2 linked regions of the Homo sapiens genome follow. Changing the gene in region 1 together with any one later gene gives a genetic interaction. Each region holds a gene or a part of one and is shown on either strand. Other genes may lie near its edges.

Region 1 (3,655 bases):
GATTATAATCAGTCTACATTAATTTTCTAAACTTACCTCCATTTGCAAAACAAATCAATAATTGATGTTATGCCTGATAAACACTATTTCCAAAAGTTCTTTGATCAAATCAAAATTATTAATCTCTCAATGGTGATGGATGATTTTTATTTTTTGTTGTTGTAGTCACTTTTTATATTCACATACTACAAATTGTTTTTTCATTTAACTTGTAAGTTCTTGATCTTAGCTTAATTTGGCTGAGCAAAAGAATTGCTAACCAGTTTAATATTTAATACTTGAAAATGCTATTTCTGTTAAGAACCCACAATTTCTGCTGCACTTAACAGCCCAACCTGTAAAAATGCAGCCTCTATAAGAACTTTGATACCACAGCAATTTCATCGCCTAATACATTCCACAGAAGCGCTATGCATTTAGCTGAATTCAAAACAAAGCTTATTACTGCTTTTCATTATGTCTTTTAGTAAGATTTGATATTTTATATTTATACATACATTACTTTTATTTAAAAAATTAATTTTTAAAAAAAGCAGGAAACTGATAAATGTATAAGAATGTTCTTTACCTCCACAGGGAAATATGTTTAAATCCATTTTCTTGAAACATGGCCCTTTTGGTATAGCTTTTGTTCTCTCCCTTTTGATTTAAAAAAAAATAGGCATAAGAAATATTTTACTTTTCTCTTTTGGGTTCTACTGTACCTGCATCCAAGTGTGTTCCATTCCTGTCCCTAATGCTGTGAAGTTTGGGCACTTTCTCCCGTGCTTTTGCAAAATTGTGATTGTTGATGATCAGACAGTATCCCCGAGGTTTGCTTTTCATTTGGTAAACTTTGTCCAAAGTCTGGAAAACAAAAACCCAACCCAGGAGCTGACTCTGTGGGTCAAACACTAGAGATGTAAACAAACAACTCCCTAGTAAGAGGACTTGCTTTCCATTGCACCACCCCAACTCGGGGTCGTTTCCTCGAAGAACTAGTTTCTACCTATTTCCTTCACACAGGACCTCTCAGACTTCTGCCCCATCGTTGTAAAGTCAGTGTCCCAATACCTGGGCCTCCTGAGCACTTTGCACATATATTAATATTGTTGTCATCACATTGTATTATTGTTTGTTCTCATTTCTGCTTCCCATACTATACAGAAGACTCCTTGAGGTTCATAACATCTGTGCCAGGGACTACGGTGTATTAACTTGTGAGAGCTCAATCAAGAGTCACTGAATGAATGAATGTCTTTGGCTGCCCCCACGCCATGACTTGTGATTCTCTTGGCTGTCTACTGAACTCATCTGTGCTTCGTGGCTAACAGCTGAGGGTCTCCCATTCATGCATTGCACAGTGTGGTCCCAGGATTTTAAAGGTGATGGCTTAACCCAGCTCTCAGGACCACGGTGGCTGCTGGGAAGAGATGGGCTGGTCAGGGAGGTCCTGGCTACACTGTAGGTTATGGTATCCAAACTGTAGTACCTGATAGTACTGGCCAGGGATGGCGCTGTGTCCTATTCATTCTCCTAGGGCTGTTTCAGTACCGAGAAACTCAGCATTTAGTTGGAGGTCTGCGTAGCCCCTTGAGGTGGAGAAAAGGACTCCAGGCTAGGAAGCCCAATTCCTGCCTCTACTTCACCTTATGACTTTGGGCAAATAACCTGTTATCTTAATATGTTAACTCTAAGATATTAAATATTTGATTAAGTTTGTACCAAGTATGTTAAGTTTTTATTATTTACAGTTGTGTTCTAAGTATTTATTAAGCATATTAAGTGTATTTACTGAGATACTAAGACACTAAGATTTGGCCAGGCACGGTGGCTAGTACCTATAATCCCAGACTTTGGGAGGCCAAGGCAGGAGGATTGCTTGAGGCCAGGAGTTCGAGACCTGGCTTGGCAACGTAGCAAGACCCCTGTCTCAATAAAACATTAAAAAAGGAAAAAGATACTAAGATTTACTAAGATATTAAGACAGTGTTTTTAGCTCTTCAGTGGGGACAATGCTTGTAGCATGCTATACTGTTTAGAAAGTACCACATTACTTGGGTTAATCCTTGACTTTCAGATGAAAGAGGTCTGGTAATTTTCTCAGGAGCCCACACTAGTGAATAATCTCTCTCAAGCCTACTTCAGATATTCAGGATTTCCTCTTCTTCCTACCATGAGGAGGAGCAGATCGTCTAATAAGTCAGGATGTATTTGGTGGATTGTTGATTACATAAAGAGAAGTTATTATGCCTAAAAATTACATGTTTCTGCTGGTTCACTGAGACAAAAACACAGAGATGGCTAGATTGTGAGAGTTTGCTGCTTACACCTCATCACCAAGGAGAAGCATTTTTGAAACATTAAGCTAAAGGAAAAGGCTTGGCTTTTTCCATTCCTGCTAGACTCTTTCTCCAAACCACTCCCCCATCCAGGCTGGCACGGCTGCTAGAAGATTTGGTAGGAGGCTTATTACCCCCTCCACCCTCCAACTATTCCAGTATCTTCATCTCGGGTCTTAAAATAAAATTCAAATGTATAGAAAACTGAAGGAGTCACATTTTAAAAATTAAGTCACATTTTTAACTTTTTTTGTGTGAATTTTTTCTACAGTTCTCAAAATTTTCAGTAAGTTTCTGCCCCTTGTCAGTTTATCTGGCAGCAAAAAAAAAAAAAAGCTAACAAATTAAATAACTAGAATCTGTAATGTAAAAAAAAGGATTTGGAGGTTTCCGTCTACCTGTGATTCACTATCCTGTTCTCTTGGAGAGTCCGAGATTGTCATTACCCCACACAACTCCTCCCCTGCAAACAACGAAGAGACACATCTAGAATGAGACATGGCAGGAAAGGTACACTGGTAATGAAATATGTAGCACATAGGACAACATAAGGTCTTTTTTAAGATGAAAATTCAAGCTGGGAACAGGGGCTCACGCCGGTAATCCCAGCACTTTGGGAGGCCAAGATGGGCAGATCACTTGAGGTCAGGAGTTCAAGACCAGCCTGGCCAACATGGTGAAACCCTGTCTCTACTAAAAGTACAAAAAAATTAGCCGGGCGTGGTGGTAGCCACCTGTAGTCCCAGCTACTCAGGAGGCTGAGGCAGGAGAATCACTTGAACTTGGGAGGTAGTGGTTGCAGTGAGCTGAGATCGCACTACTGCACTCCAGCCTGGGCAACAGAGTGAGACTCTGTCTCAAATAAATAAATGAAATAAAATGAAAATTCACAGACTGCCATGAATATAATCTCCTTTCAAGCCAGAGAGATTCTGCAAGCAGGGCAATTAACATGCTTCTGGAAACACAAGATCAAGTTGTCTCCTCGCCAAAGAGAAAAACATACCAAGAAATGCCATAATTTTATATTGCTCCACATGGCCAGGTTGAATTTTTGTGGTATTTGTGAGATACTCATTAATAAAGCCACTAGCTCAGGATGAATTAATGATTTAGTACTTTACTCCTTAAAGTATTCTTAAGGCCTTAGGCTCAGCAGGCAGAGGGGAAAGGGAAGGACAGCCTGCATAGACATTAATCTTTAAAATACATTTGAGTGATCCAAAATGTATTTTACACACACACACCACAAAGAGCCAACGTAAAAATACAATAAAAATATTCATAATATGAATGGAGTGATGGTGTTCTTGGACTTGTAAAAATTTCTCTGA
Region 2 (3,655 bases), on another chromosome or scaffold:
GGGAGGCCAAGGCAGGAGGGTCACTTGAGCCCAGGAATTTGAGGCTGCATTGCACTATGATCGTGCCTTTAAGTAGCCACTACAGTCTAGCCTAGGCAACATAGTGAGACTCCATCTAAAAAAAGGAAAATACACAAGATAGCTGGTGAGCTGATGTGGATATACTAACATTAGACAAAATAAACAGACTGATGAAAACTGTCAATTTAGCTGGGCATGGTGGTGCACACCTGTAGTACCCACTACTCAGGAGGATCACTTGAGCCCAGAAGGTCAAGGCCAGCCTGGTAAACACAGAGACTGCATCTCTACAAAAACATTTTTAAAAAGTTAGCTGGGTATGATAGTGTACACCTGTAGTCCCAGCTACTTAGGAGGCTGAGATGAGAGGATCACTTGGGCACAGGAGGTCAAGCTATATTAATAAAGGGAAAAAAAATCCACATGATTATCTCAATAGACGGAGAAAACATTTGACAAAATCCAATACTCTTTCACCATAAAAACAAAAACCCCACAGCTAACATCATACTTAATGCTGAAAGACTCGAAACTTAACCCTAAGATCAAGAACAAGACAAAGACTCTATTTCTGTTCAACATAATGTTGGAAGTCCTAGCCAGGACAACTAAACAAAAAGAATTAAAAGGCATCTGGGTTAAAAAAAAAAAAAAAAGTAAAACAATTTCCTGTATCTCTATTGATAAACAATGTAATTTTTTTTTTTTTGAGACGGAGTCTTGATCTGTCGCCCAGGCTGGAGTGCAGTGGCGTCATCTCGGCTCACTGCAACCTCCGCCTCCCAGGTTCAAGTGATTCTCCGGCCTCAGCCTCCCGAGTAGCTGGGATTACCGGTGCCCGCAACCACGCCCAGCTAATTTTTTGTATTTTTAGTAGAGACGGGGTTTCACTATGTGGGCCAGGCAGGTCTCAAACGCTTGACCTCATGATCCACCCGCAACGGCCTCCCAAAGTGCTGGGATTACAGGCGTGAGCCACCACGCCCTGCCAAATAATGTAATCTTAATATATTAAAAAACCTAAAGAATTTGTCAAAAAAACTACTGGAGTTAATGAATTCAGCAAATTTTCAGGATACAAGATCAATATACAAAATTCATTTGCATATAGCAATGAACAATTTGAAAATAAAATTTTAAAAAATTCCATTTACATCAGCATCAGGATAAAAAAAAAAAGAATAAACAGGATTACATTTAACCTAGGAAGTGCAAGACTTGAACACTGAAAACTACAAAATATTCTTGAAAGAAATTAAAGACCCTAAAAAAATGGGAAAAAAAAGGCCCCATGTTATTGGATTAGAAGAGTTACTATTAGAGGTTTAGCATCCTTAATCTCAAATCTGAAATCCAAAATGTTCCAAACTCCAAAACTTTTCAGGTGCTGACATCATGTGACAAACTGAAAATTTCATACCTGACAGGTTTGCTTTCTGATAGTTCAATGTACAAACTTTGTTTCATGCACAAAATTATTTAAAACATTGTATAAAATTACCTTCAGGCTATCTGTATCAGGTATATATGAAGCATAAATAAAATTATTCATGTTTCAACTTGAGTCCCATCTGTAAGTTATCTCAATATGCATATGCAAATATTCCAAAATCCAAACAAATGTAAAATCCACAAAACTTTTGGTCCCAAGCACCTTGAATAAAGAATACTCAATATATACTAAAATGGAAATACTCCCCAATGTAATCTCTTTTAAAATTCCAAATTTTTTTCTTGCAGAAATAAGATAATCCTAAAAGACAGAAAAACAAGGGGCCACAAATAACCAAAATACCTTGAAAAAAAGAACAAACTTGGACAACTCATATTTTCTAATGTCAAAATTCACTATAAAGCTACAGTAATCAACATAGTGTGGTAACGGCATAGCACAGACATATAGATCCATGAAATAAAAGAATTGAGTCCACAGGGGAAGAAAAAAAAAAGGAAAAAAAAAGAATTGAGATTCCAGAAATAAACCCATACATCTATGACCTATTTATTTTCAACAAAGGTGCCAAGACCATCTAATAGTAAAACATATCTTCAACAAATGGTGCTGGAATCTGAATATTCACATACAAACATTTGAATTTGCACCCTACATCATACTATATACAAATATTAACTCAAAATGGACAAAGACCTAAATATAAGAGCTAAACTTTAAGACTGTAGTCCCCGCTACTTAGGAGGCTGGGACTCCTAAAAGAAAGCATAAAGTATAAATCTTTACAATCTTACATCAGGCAACAGTTTCTTAAATTTGACACTAAAAGCATAGGCAACAAAAGAGAAATTATAGATCCACTGGAATTCATCAAAATCTAAAACTTGAGTACATCAAACGACACTAACAAGAAAACAAAAGAATGGGGGAATTTTCTCCCACAGAATGGGATAAAATATTTGCAAATCAGGTACCTGACAAGGTTCTAGTGTCCAGAATGTAAAAGAACTCTAACAACTCAACAATAAAAACAAGCCAGTTAAAGCATGGACAAAATATCCGGATACTGTTATAAAGAAATGGCCAATAAGCATATAAGAATATGCTCAAGATCATTAGTCTTTAGAGAGATGAAAATCAAAAGCAAAATGAGATAAGACTTCATACACACTAGGATGGCCATAGCAAAAAGGGGAGGCAGTAAGTGTTGGCAAGGTTGTAGAGAAATTGGAACCCTCTTACATTACTGATGGGAACGTAAAATGGTACAGGTGCTTTGGAAAAATCATTTCACAGTTTCTCAAAAAGTTAAATGAAGAGTTACCATATGCTCCAACAATTCTATTCCTCCATATATATCTAAGAAATTGAAAACATATGGTCACACAAAAACTGGTACAAGATTGTTCACAGCAGTATTATTCATAATGATGAAAAAGTAGAAACAACCCAAATGTCCATGAGTGGATGAATGGATAAACGAAATGTAATACATACACACAACAGAATATTATTCAGCCATAAAAAGGAATAAAGTACTGATAGATGCTATGAACCTTGAAAACGTGCTAAATGAAAGCAGACAGACCCAAAGGACTACATGTTATATGATTCCATTTATATAAAATGTCCAAAAAGGCAATCCCTAAAGACAGAAAGTAGATTCGAGGTTGTCTGGGAATGGAGCAAGAAAGGAATAAAGAGTGATTCTAGGTGGTACAGAGGTGTTTTGTTTTTTTTTCCCCGTGGTGATGCAATGTTCTGGAATTAGGGGCGATGGTTGCACAACCTTGTGAATATACTAAAAAGCACTGCATTTTACATTTTAAAATGGTTAAAGTGATGATTCTTATGTTATGCAAATTTTATCTCTGAGTCTACCTGAAAGAAAGTGAATCACCTATGTGAGTGAGAAGACTATCAGGCTGACCTCAGATTTCTACACAGTAACAGTTCCCCCAATTTTTAATTTTGAAAACTCGAATCTACAGAAAAACTGAAAAAAGAGTATAATAAATAACCATATACTCTTCATTGGCCTTATCTACCAGATATGTGTGTGTTTATTGGCCTTTATGTAGTTGTTTGCCCTTTATTTTTTTAAATTTTAAGCTGAATGAAAATATCACTTCACTTCAACTTTGCTTTGACACTTGTTCTCCTTTGAACAAGGGCATTCTC

What was found. A genetic interaction does not mean that the proteins touch.
Region 2: changes in CASP8 (region 1) and CHEK1 together harm fitness more than expected from each alone (negative genetic interaction), as found in Homo sapiens cells (one large-scale study listed by BioGRID).

What each region holds. Positions count from the first base shown.
Region 1 is NC_000002.12:201,274,018-201,277,672, reverse strand, and holds part of CASP8 (caspase-8 isoform 2 precursor), read right to left. Parts: intron 2,785-3,655; coding exon 2,720-2,784; intron 2,151-2,719; exon of another isoform or gene 2,037-2,150; intron 847-2,036; coding exon 705-846; exon of another isoform or gene 131-704; intron 1-130. UniProt on the Homo sapiens protein: Thiol protease that plays a key role in programmed cell death by acting as a molecular switch for apoptosis, necroptosis and pyroptosis, and is required to prevent tissue damage during embryonic development and adulthood.
Region 2 is NC_000011.10:125,645,657-125,649,311, reverse strand, and holds part of CHEK1 (serine/threonine-protein kinase Chk1), read right to left. Parts: intron 1-3,655. UniProt on the Homo sapiens protein: Serine/threonine-protein kinase which is required for checkpoint-mediated cell cycle arrest and activation of DNA repair in response to the presence of DNA damage or unreplicated DNA.